Regions from separate parts of the Homo sapiens genome. Here region 1 is linked to region 2. The links come from fine-mapping of genetic effects on gene expression. Tissue or cell type: minor salivary gland. Region 2 holds a variant in brackets; the other region holds the start of a gene. All regions are shown on one strand. Distances are between the middles of the regions.

Region 1 (8,000 bases), 360 kb before region 2:
ACTCACCTGACCCCACCCGGCCTTTCATGCTGGTGCCCTGGGGGCATCCAGGCCTTGTCCTCTTCCCCGTGGCTCTGCCCAGCCTGGTCCATGGGCTGCCTGGGACCTCCCCAGACATCTTCAGCCCTCTCAGCCCACTGAGGCCATCAGACCCCGGGGCCTTGTCCTCCCACGTGCTCCAAGCAGGAACCAGCCAGGTGCCACTGCCCCCTTCTCCAGGCCTGGACAGGGGCTGCCCCTGCCTCGTGAGCACCCCTGGGGCCCCGGCCCCGGGCCAGGCCGCTGCGTGTTCTGGATGACTCACAGCTTCCGCACACTCCCTGTGTGTGCCTCTTCCCGCCTCTCGTCCAGTCTCCTCTCTCAAGCTGGAGTGAGCGCAGCTTCGTCCTTCCCTGGGGCAGCATGGGGGCAGAACTTGAGGGGCCTGGATCTGCTCCTCTCTCTGAATTGACCCCCACAGCTAACCCCCCTGTGCCCCTTTGCCTCTGAGCCCTCCCATAGGCTGTTCCCTCTGCCTGGAATGCTCTTCCGGTTCAACCTTGATCCCACGACCCAGCCCCATGCTGGTGCCCTGCAGGTGTGTTTGTCCGATGGAGACACGTGTTCAGGGCTCAGCCAGCCCAGGGGGTCAAGGGCAGTAAGTCCTAGGCCCAGCTGTGGGGCTGCCGTCATGAGCCCACCGTCCCCAGAAGGTCAGCGTGACAGCGTCCTGGGGGTCAAGGGAAGAAGAGGCTGTGCCGGCAGGTCTGGTTTGTGGGGAGGGTGTGCACCTGATGGGGACGAGGCTATGACCAAAGGCACAGATGTGGGCTGTGGGTGGCCGGGACCAGACTGGGGAGCTCGGCAGGGCCATGAGGCTGGGGCCTGGGACGGACAGGGACCGGGGTCCTGGGGGCTTCAGGCTGGACAAGGTGGGGAGCAGGGTGGCCCGAGGCTTGTGGCCGGGTCGAATGGGCTGGGGGTCAAGGGCGTCTTCACCCGAGAGTGAGGGCACTGGCGCCTCTGTCTGCCCCTCGTGGCTGCCGGCCCTGCAGGGAGAGCGCCCGGTGTCAAATCAATTGGAGAAATTGATCTTGGCAGGGATTTCCGAGCCATCTGCTCGGTCCCCAAAGCCTTCTGAGAGGGTGAACATGGCACCCAAATCCCTGGGGAGGCAGGTCGAGGGGGGTGCTGCGGTGTGAACGGGCCTCGGTTTCCCCCAGTGCACCCTGGATGCACCCCTCTTTGGTGACTCAAGAGGCAGAGATTTGTGGACCCCCTGCAGAAGCCCACCCTGCCCCGCCCAGAGCTGTCAAGAAGCTGTGAGGGGCAGCTCCAGCCTAAGACCCCAGGCAGCTTCCATCATTTTTCACCCTGTTCACGAATTCCACGCCTCCCGCTTCCTGCTGGGCATTTGGCCGCCCCCGTCCCGGCCTTGTCTGGCTCAGCGGGGCTGGGGCCGGGGGCGGGCCCTGTGTCGGGCCTCGGGGGAGCCCAGGCTCCGCTCACTCTGCGCTGGCTGCACTCGGCTCCAGGGACAATATTTGCTCGGGGAAAGAATCAAACATTTATCCTCGCATTTATTCAGGGGAGCAGTTGTCAAACACGCGTGTCCTCACTGCTTGGATGTTTCCCAGGCCTGGCCTCAGCCTGGGCCTTTCTCCTGCCAGGATTTGTGCCCACTCAGCCGCTCCCTGTGCCCTCCAGGAGGTTGAGGTCCTGCTCTGGGCAGACGGCGGGAGCACGGGTCGGGGCCAGTGCTGGGCAGGGCAGAGGGGTCCCTGAGGCCGAGTGATGCCGCACCCTGGTCCTTCTCCTTCCAGCCTCAGAGCAAGGCCAAGGTGCCCCAGAGACCCCAGCAAGGCTCTCTGGGCCCACGTTCTGGGCCTGGGGCGCCAGGAAAAGCTGGTGTTTGGGGTGGGGGAGGTAGGACAATTCTAGGTGGGAGGCGGCGGGATTCCCAGGGCCTGCCATTTGCGTCACCCGCGCGGCCGCTGCCTCTCAGCAGTGCTGTCTGCTGTGGCCTGGGGAGCAGCTCCCCGCTGCGCCTGGATGACCGTCCTCTGCTCCTGTCCCCGTTCCCTCTCCCGGGCCAGAGCCCCTGCCCCAAAGCAGAAGAGACGGCCGCAGGTTCCCTGTCCTCTCCAAGCCCTGACCCTCAGGTCCTCCTGCAGCAGGAGCACCTCTCCCTAGTGCCCTCAGGCACCCCACACTGGACCCCTCCAGACAGAGCCAATCTCAGCACGGCACAGCCATCTGCACCCCCAGCAGCCTGGAGGGCTGCAGCCTTCACCCCAACCTCAGCCCCCAGCTCTCCTCTGCACCAGCCGCCTCCCCACCTCGCCCCTGGCTAGGCCAGCGCCCAAGCCCCCACACTCCCCTCTCTGAGACAGCAACTGCCGCCCGCAGCCTCCCATGGGGGGTGTCGGGCAGCAGGGTGGGGCCCCCAGGACAGGCGTGACCCTGGCTGACCAGGGGCTGCCCAGCCACACTCCCCTTACACCTGCATCCCCAGAGTCCACACAGTGCAGGGCAAGCGAGGGGCTGGGGCCCTGGCCAGGGACTCCGGGGACCTGAGTCAAGCGCTTTCGGGTGTCTTTAACTTAGCAGAGCAGCCTTGGACGGGGACCCGGTGGCTCGGAGCTGACATGCAGCTGGTGGGCCGGGCAGGTCAGCTCCGCCGTCAGGAAGACCCTCTCGCCTGGCCGGCCTTCTGGAAAAGTCGCTCCCCAGAGGGAAGGCCGGCATGGGCTGGGGCCAGATGGAGGGTGAGGCGGCCCTGAGCACTTGCACGGCATGGCGGAGCCCCCCACCGGTCTGGCCACCTCCCCTACCTCCCGGGAGCCCCCGCTGTGTGGCAGACGGTTAGAGGGGATGGTCGGTCACGGTGGGGAACCTACTGCCCTGTGTCTACCCCAGCCTGGCTTCAGCCAGCTCTGTCCTCACACCACCGCCGGGGAGCATCCTGACTGGCAGGTCATGGGTGGGGGTCACCGCAGTGCAACCTCCGCTCCTGGGGGTGACACGGGGCCGCCCACCCCCCGCCTGCACTCTCACAGCTTGCTGGTCTGCATAAGCCCGTTGGCTGCGGCGCGGTGCGCGGGTGGCGTGGCCTCCTGCTGCTGCCGGATCCTGTCTGGACGCGGCTCCGTGGCGTCAGCGTCCTTGGCACCAGAGCCCTTGCGGAGGCACAGAACCTTCTGGAAGCTCTGGCGGAAGTTGTCAGAGAGGAAGCCGTAGAGGACGGGGTTGGCACAGCTGTTGGCGTAGGAGAGGATGACCACGAAGAAGTAGAGGCCGGCGGAGGCGGGCTCCTGGGGCAGCGCCACGGCCAGGTTGACGATGTTGACGGTGAAGAAGGGCAGCCAACATCCCGCAAACACCAGCACCACCACCAACACCATGCGCGTCACCTTCCGCTCCGAGCGCCGCCGCACGCAGCCCACGCGCACGCCCGCCGCCCTCACCTTCACCACGATGAGCAGGTAGCACAGGCAGATGACCAGCAGCGGCGCGAAGAAGCCCAGCACGGCCGTGTAGATGATGAAGACGGCGCCCCACAGCCCCACGGGCTCCGGCCAGCTGGCGTTGCAGGTACCGCCCTCCTGCACGTCCGCGAACACCAGGAGCGGCAGCGACATGCACAGAGACAGGACCCAGGCCGCGGCGCTCGCCAGCTTGGCCACACGCGGGCGGCGCCAGCGGGCCGAGCTCAGCGGGTGCACCACTGCCAGGTAGCGGTCCACGCTCATGACTGTCAGGCAGAAGACACTGGTGAACTGGTTGACGCCGTCCAGCGTCATGACCAGGCGGCACAGGACGGGGCCGAAGGGCCAGAAGGACGCGGCGTTCTGCGTGGCCAGGAAAGGCAGCCCCAGCATGTACAGGACGTCGGCCACTGCCAGGTTGAGAATGTAGATGTTGGTGACGGTCTTCATCTTGGCGAAGCGCAGCACCACGTAGATGACCAGCGTGTTCCCGCCCAGCCCGGCCGCACACACCAGCAGGTACAGCACGGGCACCAGCACCGCCCGGGCCCCTGCCGAGGGCGCCGGCCCCACCAGCGTCCTGTTGTCACCGCCTCCAGAGGCAGCCCCCGGGGAGGAGGCGTTCCAGCTGGGCGTGGAGGCTGGGAACAGGGGCTCCATGGCGGCAGCCCTGGGGTGCGTCAGGCTCTGCAAGAGAAGAAGGGAGGACGCCAGGGTGGTGAGTCCCTGAACCAGCACATGCAGGCATTCCTTCCTCCTGGGCCCCAGCCCCGCCTGCCAGGAGGCGCGGGATCACCGGGTAAACACGATTAGTCATGTTTAGCTTGGCCGGGAATCACGTTAAGCAAATTGTTTGGAAAATAAGCCAGGAGAGGAAGGAGCGGCGGGCAGGTGGCCCCGGGAGCCCAGACGGACGGCTGCTGTCGATATGGCGACAGCTGCCCTGTGGCCGCCCCTGCACCCAGATGGCGCCTGGCCTGGCCGCAGCATCCTGGAGTCTGAGGCCAGCACCTGCGTCTCCCTGAAGCCCCTCAGAGCCTGCCCTGCAGTGCTGCTGCCCTCGTCTACCAGGTAAGGAGCCGAGGCCCAGCGGGCGGCCCCTCCCGGGACACACAGGGAGAGGTGGCAGTGGAGAGAGATGGGGCCGGTGGTCGGCCCCCTGTCCGCCTGGGATGAATGGCACCTGGCTAGGACGACCTGAGAAGTGGCTGGACGTGGTGTCGCCACCGCAGCCTCGAGGGACTTTCACCGGGGTGCCCGCTGCCCGTTGGCCCCGAACCTCTCTCCAGGCCAGCGCAGGGACCGTCACCCCCACAGCAATGACAGACATCTGTAAACCCAGGCGGGGGCACAGCACAGGGCCAGAGAGACACCACCCTCCCCACGGGGCGGCTGCAGAGAAGCAAACACACAAACCACACAGAGTGGTCACACGGAGCCCCAGGAGTCACACAGGGCGAAGGAGGGGGGACTGCGGGCGGGGGCTGCACACCCTGCAGCCCGGAGGAGAAGCCGCGGTGGGGGGTGTGGGCGGGTCAGAGGCATAGCGTATGGGGGCTGCAGCCACCTGACACTGCCCAGTCCCATCGGAGCTTTGAGCCCCCTCCCAGGCCCTGGAACCCCCCACTGTGGCCCAGAGAGAGAACAGGGGAGACTTGGGGGAGGGGAGGGAGGGGTGTCCATGGAGAAGGGTGGGCTGGGAATGGTGACGTCTGTGGGTCCAAGGCCATGGGCACGTGTGTACCTCGTATATTGTTTTTGTATTTTTCTGCATGTTTGAAATCATTCATAAAAATGATACTCCGGCTGGGTGCAGTGGCTCAAGCCTGTCATCCCAGCACTGTGGGAGGCCGAGGCGGGTGGATCACCTGAGGACAGGAGTTCAAGACCAGCCTGGGCAACATGGTGAGACCCCCGTCTCTACAAAAAATACAAAAATTAGCCAAGTGTGGTGGCGGGCGCCTGTAGTCCCAGCCACTGAGGAGGCTGAGTCAGGAGGATCATTTGAGCCCAGGAGGTTGAGGCTGCAGTGAGCTGTGATTACACCACTGCACGCCAGCCTGGGTGACTGAGCAAGACCCTGTCTCAAAAAGAAGATCAATGCCTCCCCTGACGAGTGGGGCGGAGGAAGTCCGGATGTTTGGGTTGACCCTGGAGCTGTGTGACTCTGGGGGTGGCCAGCAGAGAATCAAAGTGTCCCCTAGGATCCAGACCAGGGACAAGCCCCTCCCTGGGGGACCTCGGCCTGAGCAGGGGTGGAGCCGGCTGTGGTGACCTCAGCATGTGCCGTCTGGAGCCCTGGGGCTGCTCAGCTGACCGGCCCTGACCCTGGAGGCACCTCAGAGCACAGGACGACCCCAGCAGCTGCCAGGAAAGGCCACAGTCCTGGCTGGGGGCTGTGGGGCTGGGCCAAGGCCACTGAAATCTGGTAGACAAGGAAAGGAGAGCTGGGGACGGGGGAGCCCAGAACACAAGGCTGACAGCACAAAGAGAAAGCCCTCTGTCCCCAACAAACCTAGAAATCAACATCCCCAAGCTCGCATGGCCCAAACACACTAAGAAATACGACTCAGAAAATCAACAGGGCCAGTGGACCCATGGATCCATCTCAGGGAGATAAAAATAACGAGCAAACAGGTACGCTTAGGCTATGTTTAAATATGTGCAGGATCCACAGAGACAGCATGGATAAAATGTTAGGAAATACATTTGGCTTCTGTCTAAGGAGTAAAATGAACAGGCATCTATTTTTAAAAATTACAAATCCTGGATGTAAAAAATACAATCATTTAAGTGGAAAAAAACACTACAAAAGTGGTCAGAACCAACTCCAGTGTGGACAGCACTGAAGAGAGAATTGGTGAATGGGAAGAGGGTTGAAAGATTCACTGGAGCAGGGTGCTGGCACAAGGTCCAGAGAGGGCTCTGTGGGGTGGGCAGGGGGAGAGCATGGCTGGGCTCCCCCAGAACTGGCGACAGGATCCCTTCTGGGAGCGCACCTGTCCCAAGCAGCATAAAGGAATGAAAGAGCATCCCCATCAAGCTGCGGCATCTGGGCAGGGACGCCAGCCAGAGAGACACCAGCCAGAGAGACAGGACGGATTCCCACAGGCAGGAGCCAGAGTGCAGCAGAATCCTCAGCAGGGACGGAGCAGTGGCCTCCACGCAGACCCCGGGGTGGGAGAAGAGGGGAGGTGGGGAGGGAGAAAGAAAGACAGGGTGTGGGGAGAGAGGGAGGGAGAGGGAGAGGGAGAGGGAGAGGGAGAGGGAGGGGGTGGCAGGGAGGGAGAGAGAAAGATAGGGTATGGGGGAGAGGGAGGGGGAGGCGGGGAGGGAGAGAGAAAACAGGGTAGGGGGAGAGAGAGAGGAGGGAGAGGGAGAGGGATGGGGAGGCGGGGAGGAGAGAGGGAGAGAGGGAGGGAGAGGGAGGGGGAGGGGAGGAGAGAGGGAGAGAGGGAGGGAAAGGGAGGGGAGGTGAGGGGGGAGGGAGAGGGAGGGGGAGGTGGGGAGGGAGAGAGAAAAGGTGGGGGGAGAGGGAGGGGGAGGAGGGGGAGGGAGAGAGAGGGGGAGGTGGGGAGGGAGAGAGAAAGACAGGGTGGGGGGAGAGAGGGAGGGAGAGAGAGTGGGGGGGGAGAGAGAGAGACAGGGTAGGGGGAGAGAGGGAGGGAGGGAGAGGGAGAGGGAGGGGAAGAGGCCTGTGGCTCTCCGCTCCCCAGGGACCAGCATGGAAATCCAACACGCCATGTTTGCGGCTCCCTCTGGCTGCCTGTGGAGCATGCATTCCGGAAGGACAGTGGTCTGGAGACAGCCCGCGGGCTGCGTGGGAGTCCAGGTGGGTGGGATGGCGGCCCAGGTGCAGAGGCCTCTGAGCTGCACCCTCCCTGGGGAGGCACTTTCGGCCCATTCCTCCGTAGCAAGGAGGCCAGGTGGAGGGGACAGAGGAGCCACCGATGGTGGGACAGGGAGAGGGCGGCTGTCGGGCTCCGGTCCATCTCCAACACAGGCCCTGGGTCCCCAGCACGTGTGGTTCCCAAATGCCTGTTTGATTTTTTGTTTTCGAGATGGGGTCTTGCTCTGTTGCCCGAGCTGGATCGAAGTGGTGCTGTGATCACAGCTCACTGCAGCCTCGACCTGTGCTCAAGTGATCCTCCTGCCTCAGCCTCCCTGTCTTTGTAGCTTCTTAGCTTCAGAGGAGCCTCAGGGTTCCTCCAAGGCCACTCCCATGCCCAGAGCCCAGCGAGGGGCTCCACAGGCTGCCAGGTCCCCGGCTCTGCGGCCCCCAGTGCTCCACCTCCGGAGTTAGACTTCAGAGCAGCAAAGGACACAAATAGACCATTATTGCTGTACCTGACTCTTGGAACATAATTCTGCAAGAGCCGTTATTTGGAAGCAGTATCCTCTGAATCATAAAATTACGCACTCACGGGGAATTGTCCCGGTGGCCCTGTCCCTTGTGGGTGGGGGATTCACTGGAGGGGGAGCCAGCAGTAGGAGCTTTCTGATCCCGAGCCCTCGGCCACGAAGGGATCTGCT
Region 2 (8,000 bases):
GACCCGCGGAAGGGGACAGGCAGGCCCTGCCCTGGGGGAGCGCACGTGCCGGCGGGAGTCGGGATACACCCGGCGATCTCACGGGCTAGAGCCCCAGGGAAACGGGGCTGCGCGTCTTTGTCGTGGAATGAAGGGAAGTCTGCCTTGGAGAGGGGCGGTCCTGGCCCCAGAACCAGCCGGGGGCTCGCGTGGGGCGGCTGGAGCCCAGGGAGCCGGTGGGAAAGCGGCTCCCCGGGATGAGACAGCGTCCAGGCGCCAGCACCCCCATGACTCTGCCTCGGGGAGACTGCTGGGGGCGCTCCGCTGACTCGGACACCCAGCGCCAGCCAGAGCCCGGGAGGACATCCTTCCATTTCCCTCCTACAGCCTGAGCGATGAGCCCCAGTGGGCGGTGAAGGGATGGGGGGTGGGGTCTGAGGGAGAAGGGCATGGAGGAGGGGCTGACACGGAGGAGAGCTTGAGCAGGCCCAAGAAGACAGATGCTGGCTCTCAGGCGAGTGTGGTGGGAGGAAAGCCGGATGTCACAGGCGGGGGCCTCTGGCACCTGCCAGCTACAGGGAAGGCAGACAGCCCCGGGAGTGGGGAGATCACCTTCCTTCTCCAGAAAACAACACACAAAAAGACTGAGTTCCTGGAGGTGACCTTGTGAAGCTGGGGGTGGGAAGCGCAAGTGGAAGAGCCGAGCTCTGGGTCAGGCAGCTGGGCCACGACCTCCACACCCAGGGTAGGGCTGAACACCCGTGAATGTCGGGGGTTGTCTATGCGTGCCCTGGCCTAGCTCCTCCTTAGCCATCCGTGGCTGGGGTCTAGAGCCCCTGCAGGGACAGAGGCTGCTTCCAGACATGGGTATGCCGCAGACCACAGCCCCCAGCTCCCAAGTGCAGAGTCTCACAGGCCTGCCCACGTTGGCCCCAGCCCCACCCAGCTCAGCGTGTCCTGTCTCCTGGGGGCCTGGAACGGCCCTCCCAGGAAAGGAAGGGTGTATGTACACTGAGCTCTAGGGGGAGCTGACAGCGCCCATTCCTGTCCTGCTGCCTGCATTATTCCCTGCACCTAGAGCAGTTACCTAGGAGGCTTACTGGATGAATGCACCTAATTGGACTCTAGCGTGCACTCTCCACTCTTCTTTTTTTTTTTTTTTTTTTTTTTTTTTTTTTTTTGAGACTTGAGTCTCGCTCTTTCGCCCAGGTTGGAGTGCAGTGGCGCAGTCTTGGCTCACTGCAACCTCTGCCTTCCAGGTTCAAGTGATTCCTCTGCCTCAGCCTTTTGAGTAGCTGGGATTACAGATGCATGCCACCATGTCTGGCTAATTTTTTGTGTTTTATTAGAGACGGTTTCACCATGTTGGCCAGGATGGTCTCCATCTCCTGACCTCATGATCTGCTTGCCTGGGCCTCCCAAAGTGTTGGGATTACAGGCGTGAGCCACTGCGCCCAACCTCCCCACTCCTCTCCCGTCCACACCAGGCACTCTGCTGCTTGGCCTTTGGGCACTCTGCAGCCACCTGTACCTGTGTGAACTGGCACTTGCCTGGCGGTGTCTGTGATCCACAGGCCCCAGGCTCCTGTAGCTCCTGCCCACCTGCTCACCCACACTGTCTCCCTATCTCCCATGCCACTTTGGCCACCTGTCCCCAGGGCAGGCATGAAGCCCCTGGTCTAATGCTCCAAGACCCATTTGGGCACCGTGGTGCTCCTGTGGCCCTGTGTCTCATGAGAAGACAGCTGGTTGCAAAGCCAGGGCTTTCTCTGGGAGGGTCTGTAGGTGCAAGGCTCAGGCACTTCCTGAGACAGGTAGGTAGAAGCCAGGGTTCGGCCAGGGCCCAGCCCAGGGTGTTTGTGAACAGGTGGACTTGGGTGTGGCTGAAAAGGAGAGGTTGTAGGAAGCTGGCCAGAGAATCAGGGCAAGTGCCAAAGGTAAGGGGGTTGCTCGGCCCACGGGAAAGCCTCTCCAAGACAGGAGTGGAGGAGGCGGTGCAGGAGGGCACACGGGCTACCTCCTTTTCTAGTGTTTGCAGAAGTGTTTGGGCTGGGGGCAGATGGATGTAAGGCTATGGGCCCCAGGGAGTGGTCAGGGCTGAAGATGAAAAAGTGGAGGTTGTCCAAGGGTTATTGGAGGCTGCCCCAGAGGAGCGGTCCTGTGCCTGAGCCCTCAGCGTGCCACAGTTGGGAGAGGAGAGAAGCAGCAAGGAACCTGAGGAGGGGCAGAAGGTGGGAGAACCCCCACAGTGCATGACACCCAGTGGCTGCGCTCCTCACCCATCCTCATCAGCCCTGCGGCAGGCAGGTGATCTGTGTGAAAGGGTAAGTCTCTTGCACGTGCAGTGGAAGTCCCAGGGCGGCGCTGGAGGTGACCCCCCTCCCCAGGTGTCCACAGAGGGCATGGCACTCATCAGGCATCTGCATCCGCTAACCTAGAGAAAGGACCGTGTTTGTGGGCCCTGCACAGCTGTGTCCCTCACACAGCCTCAGTTTCCCCCTTGAAAGCTGGGGGCTTCATCTGCCTGGGCAGGGCCTCTGGCCTCCACCCCCACCCCGGCCCAGGCGAGAATGGAAAGCCATTTCTGGGGCTCAGCCCAGGGGTCCCTGGCCCTTGAGCCATGGCTGTCTCTTTCCCAGGATCCGAGGGGTTGGGGTGAGAGGAGGCAGCTCACACAGGGCCAGGTGTCCTGGAACACCCCCACCCAGGGGCTTTTAGCCTCGGAGCCTTGGGCTGTGGCTGTCCCAAACCTCACTGGCCCTTTATGCGGCTGAAAGGCCGAGGAGGAAGGCGGAGACAGTGACAATGGGGCCAGTGGCGGGAAACGGTCCTTAGAGACCCCATTGTGCACCCCGCCCGCCGGAAACAGGCAACAAGCAGGACCCTGCAGAGGGGACCCCACACCCTTCGGGCTCCTCGCCACGTCTGGATGCTCAGCACGTCGAAGGGGCCTGAGGACAGAGGGGCCCATTCTTCCCCAAGGGCGGGACGGGGCCAAGGATGACTCTGCGGGCTCACAGCAGCCATGGGGGAAGTCGGCACCCTGCCAGCCTGCAGCCCCTTCCCTCACAGGCCTGGCTCAGAGCCGGAGCGCTGTGCGCCCGCCTGCCCCCACCGTACCCGAGGGACCCTATGCCCCTCTGCCCCTTTCCTCTCCTGCTGAGCCCCAGAAGCACCTGGCACGGGAGGCAAGTGGGAGCCAGCCAGGGAAGCAGGCAAGGGTGCGGGCAAGGACGGGGCTGGTGGGTGCAGCAGAGCAGAAGCTTGCATGAGTGCAGGTCCCCACGTGCCCCCCACCCAGCAGCGGCCCCTCCCCGGAATGTGGGTGTAGCTCCTCCTGACATCTGCTCTCCCTCTCAGTTGCCAAATGGTCTTGAACAAGATACCATTCCCCTGAGCCTCAGTCTCCCGCCAGGAGGCAGGAATTGGAGCCATCCTCACAGCTGCGAGGCAGGCCCAAGGCTGGGCTGGACACAGGAGACCAGGTCCACAGCAGCTTGCGTGAACAGAGTTCTTATTGATAGTCCCATCACCTCCAAAGCAGTGGGCCCACCCTCCCTCCTACCAGCCCCTCCCCAGCACCCAGCCCCTCAGTGCAGCGCCACCTCGCAGGGGTGGAGGTGGGCAGCACGGGCAGCCTCGTAGGCACGGCGGAACTCCTGGAATCGTGGGGCACAGCCCAGCCGGGCCTCCCCAAAGCGGCTCCAGCCCATGAAGAGGAAGGTGCCTGGGCCCGGGTGGACGCCACAGCGCAGTGGGGTACGAATGGAGGTCAGCCCCTGGTCCCCGGATCGCCCCGCCTGGAACAGCGGCGGTGTCTGGCGGAGGACACGGGCGGCCACCACAGTGATGACAGACTCCTGCAGCTCCACGTCATGGGTGACCCCATGGATGATCCCGTGAATTACTGTGGGGAGGCATGTGGCTGCGGTAGGCATTCAGGGGAAGGCAGGCTCCAGGCTCCCCCCATGGCGGGGACACTCACCGAAGTCGCTGGTGCATGCGGCCAGGAGCAGCTCAGCGTCGCTGCAGGGCCTGCAGGCACCTGGCATGCAGAGGGGGTGGTGAGGAGAGGCCCTGCCCTCTCCCGGCATCACCCCAGGCCCCGTCCCTTGTCCGCACAAGCGGCAGGAGGCAGCAGGCAAATGAGCAGAGCCCACGCTCAGGGCCTGATGGCACCTGGGGGTCCCAGAGAGCTACACAGCAGATGTGCACGCCCTCGGCGACACCTGTACTCAGGAAACACACTTGCAGGCGCGTACCTCCAAGGCAGGAATGCACACAGACGTGGGCCTGGGGGCCATGCCTAGCGATCAGCTGTCCTGGGCCGCCCTCCTGCACTCCCATCTGACATATGCACCCCAGCATCTGGGACCCCTCTAGTTTCCCGGATCTGAGGTCTGAAGAGCAGCAGCCCAGCTAGGGTGATAGGAAGTGGGGGCAGAGGAAGGGTGGTCTGGGGTCCCTGGCCCAGGGCCAGGGGGCAGAATAGCGAGAGCCCATCCCTTTCAGGGTCAGGCGCCAAGCTCCAGGAGAGCCAAGCAAGAGCTGGGCCTGGTGCCCTGCAGGGAGGCGAGCGGCGTCTCCATGGTGACCGGGCTGCACACTGGACTTTTGTTGGTTGGGCTGGGGGAGGGGAGAGAGGTCACCGCTGGGCCAGGGAGCCCCGGACAGCTTTGGCCGGAGGCTTCGATTCTG[T/C]CCCCACCATCTCTTCCCCCAACCGTTCAGGGACCAGAGGCCCAGGATTGCTGGGCCCGGCCTCCCCTTCCCTCCACTCTGCCCCTGCCAGCTCTTTCCAGAGATGAATCGGGAAGGGAGGGCGGGGAGGCCATCCCTCCCCAGCAGTCCCAGGCTGTGTGGCCTGACAAGCCCATCCAACCCTTGTAGCTCACTTTTTCCTTCTGCAGTGGGGCCGACAAGGCACATTCCCGCCAAGCCCAGGCAGGGTAAGACTTCGGGACTCCCACCCTGTCCCAACCAGACCGCCACTCACCGTCTACGCCGAGACCGTGGGCCTGCGGGGGCAGCTCGGGGCGCCCGTCCTCGCGCAGCTCAAAGCGGAAGGCGGCCACGCGGCGGCTGATGTCCTGGTGCGGCGTGGCCTGCAGGAAGAGGGCCCGGCGCTCGCGGGGACCCCAGCGCACGCAGCGGCCCCCTGCCGGGCCCGGGCCCTCGGCCAGCAGCAGCTCCAGGGCGCCCCCTGCGCGCTCCGCGAAGACCTGGGCGCCCGCGAAGGGCCGCACCGGCCGCAGACAGGCGATGCCGGGCCGCGCTCTGGGATCGGGGCCGCCCAGGGTCAGGCGCAGCGCCCCAGCCGGGTACAGCCACTCAACCGCGCCCTCCGCACAGGCCAGGGCCAGCTGCCCCACGCTGCCGGGCTCCTGGGTGAGGCCGCTGGGGACAGGACGGGACGGGGCGCTGAGACGGGGGCGGGTCCCCGCCCGGCGCAGCCCCCGCTCCCTCCCGAGGCCGCCTCGCGGATGGGGAAACCGGCCCAGCGCTCTGCGCGCTCCGAGGGGCGCCTGGGGGGTCCTAGCCGCAGCGCACCCCGTCCTAAGTGCGGGGACAGCCCCCCGGACCGTACCTGCCCCTCCAGCTGCAGCGCTCCTCGGAGTAGCCGGCGCGGGCAGCCGGGGCCAGGAGGCCGCAGCACAGCGCGCAGAGCAGCGCCGCGGCCGGGAACCCCATGGCACGGCGGGCGGCGTCCGGGGAGTCGGGGCTCTCACCACCGCTGCCCCGGCGGGGCGCGGGTCCGGGCGGCGGCGGGAGCAGCCGGGGGCGCCGGCCGCCCGGCCCCGGCGAAGCCCCCAAGCCCGCGGCCGCTCCGCCTGCCGCGCAGCCCCAGCGCCGGGGCCGCCTTGGAGCGGGTCGGGAAGGGGGCGGGGCCTGCGGCGTGTCGGCCAGTCGCGGCGCGGCCCGGAACTTTCCGCCAATAGCAGGCGCGGGGCGGAGCGGGGGCGGGGCCGGAGCTCGGGCGCCGCCGGAGGACTATCCCACGGTCCAAGCGCCTCGAGGGTTGGGGGGGGCCTTGGCGCGGAAGGGAGGCTCCTTGCCCGCCCCGCGCTGTGCGTCTCTCCTTCGCCGCGCCCTCACCCTGGCCTCGCCCCCCGCGCTGTCCCGATCGGAGTCCTGGAGCCTCTGATGGAGCCGAGGTTTTGATGTCCACTGGAACCTCGGGGTGGCGGTAGGGAAGGTGGCCCACCTGGTGGTTCCGCCTCGCGGGCGGCCGGGCCTGCTCCTTCCTAACACTGGGACCTGGGCCTGTTGGCCACATCCCTCCCAACCAGGTCCGGTCCTGCTGACCAGAGGCCGGTGGAGCCCCAGAGGAGAGGGGTCATGACTCCAGAGGCGGGGAAGGCCTGGCCTGGGGGCTGCGCCTTGGAGCGGGGCCAGGCCTCGGGTTTTGGTAAGGCCGTCTGCAGGAGGGGGTCCTGCTGAAGAGCGCGCAGCCCGCAGGCTTAGGCCCCTTTCCTCAGACCTAGCGGCACCCCATAGTTGCCGGATGACCGACCCCGGGCCAGACGGGGCTCCTGGAGGGGCGTGAATGGAGCAGCCACGGGCACCCCTGCAGGCCTGCAGCACGTGGAGACACAGGAGCTGGGAGGACACCCCTGGGCCACAGGAGCAGCCCCCACCAAGATGAAACAAGCAGAAACAGGCGATTCGCAAACACACTGTAGCCTCAGGCTGGAGCAGTGTGGGATTCCCAGCATCCGGGACTGCTGAGTTGGCCTGATGGGAGGAAGTGGGCAGTGGCTGGCCAGGTGGACAGGAAGAGAATGGGGGAGAGCAGACAGCCTGGGTCAAGGGCCTGAGGAAGGAGCTCTTGGCAGCCCAGTGAAACCCCAGGGCATGGGTGGTGGGTGGGGACGACAGGTCAGATCACAGAAGGCCTAAGGCACAAGCAAAGGGGTCCCACTACATACTGAACCCCTTACGGACGACAGAAGCTTTAGCCGGGGACTGCAAGGACCAGCATAGACTGTGCAGCCTGAAGATGTGAACATTCCGTCCCCTGCCCCCAAACCTCCTGCCACCCGGCGCTCGAAACTCATGGTGGACAGATGAGTTCACCAGTGGCAGTCGGACAGATGAGGCCAGATGGCTCAGTGGCAGTGGGAGGCTGGATCCCACTGACCAGGCCCTCCCTCAACCCCAGGGCCCTCCCAGGCCAAACAGGAACAAGGCGCCTACTGGGCTCGGCCAGCCCCTTGCTCTGGGCGAGGTGCAGGTCAGAAGTAGCCATCACAATCCCCAAAAGGTGGAAGACTCCCAAAGGCCTGTCTGCAGCTGAGTGGACAAGCAAGTGCAGTGGGTCCATTTTTTTTTTTTTTTTTGAGACGGAATCTCGTTCTGTCGCCCAGGCTGGAGTGCAGTGGCTCGATCTCGGCTCACTGCAACCTCTGCCTCCTGGGTTCATGCCATTCTCCTGCCTCAGCCTCCCGAGCAGCTGAGACTACAGGCGCCCGCCACCACACCCGGCTAAATTTTTGTATTTTTTCTTTTTTTAGTAGAGAGGGTGTTTCACCGTGTTAGCCAGGATGGTCTCGATCTCCTGACCTCGTGATCTGCCCGCCTTGGCCTCCCAAAGTGCTGGGATTACAGATGTGAGCCACCGCGCCCGGCCTCTTTTTTTTTTTTTTTTTTTTTTTTTTTTTTGAGATGGAGTTTCGCTCTTTGCCCAGTCTGGAGTGCAATGGCGCGATCTTGGCTCACTGCAACCTCCACCTCCTGGGTTCAAGCGATTCTCCTGCGTCAGCCTCCCGAGCAGCTGGGATTACAGGCATGTGCCATCATGCCGGCTAATTTTGTATTTTTAGTAGAGACGAGGTTTCTCCATGCTGGTCAGGCTGGTCTTGAACTCCCGACCTCAGGTGATCCGCCCACCTCAGCCTCCCAAAGTGTTGGGATTACAGGCATGAGCCACGGCACCCCCTGGCGGTGGGTCCATTATTAAGCCATAAAAAGGAATGAAGTTCTGGTCCCTTGACACCCGCTACAGCCTGGATGAGCCTGGAGGC

Evidence for each region. PIP is the estimated chance that this variant, and not a neighbour inherited with it, causes the effect.
Region 1: SSTR5-AS1 starts here. The variant in region 2 is fine-mapped to the expression of SSTR5-AS1 in minor salivary gland (GTEx, PIP 0.99).

The regions. Positions count from the first base shown.
Region 1 is chr16:1,074,996-1,082,995 of GRCh38, reverse strand. It overlaps SSTR5-AS1 (SSTR5 antisense RNA 1), which reads left to right and starts at 4,265. Exons shown (of 4, transcript NR_027242.1): 1 at 4,265-4,538; 2 at 5,284-5,372. It overlaps SSTR5 (somatostatin receptor 5), which reads right to left. Exons shown (of 2, transcript NM_001172560.3): 2 at 1,542-4,154. The coding sequence starts at 4,127. The coding sequence ends at 3,033. RefSeq lists enhancers at 1-65, 3,847-4,511.
Region 2 is chr16:712,957-720,956 of GRCh38, reverse strand. METRN (meteorin, glial cell differentiation regulator) reads right to left here and starts at 5,839. Exons shown (of 4, transcript NM_024042.4): 1 at 5,564-5,839; 2 at 4,973-5,373; 3 at 3,965-4,024; 4 at 1,302-3,886. The coding sequence starts at 5,667. The coding sequence ends at 3,570. RefSeq lists silencers at 1-170, 5,081-5,140, 5,241-5,670, 5,771-6,080 and enhancers at 1-527, 528-1,235, 3,833-4,430, 4,431-5,028, 5,029-5,626 and 1 more. The variant T/C (reference allele first, on the strand shown) is at 4,678.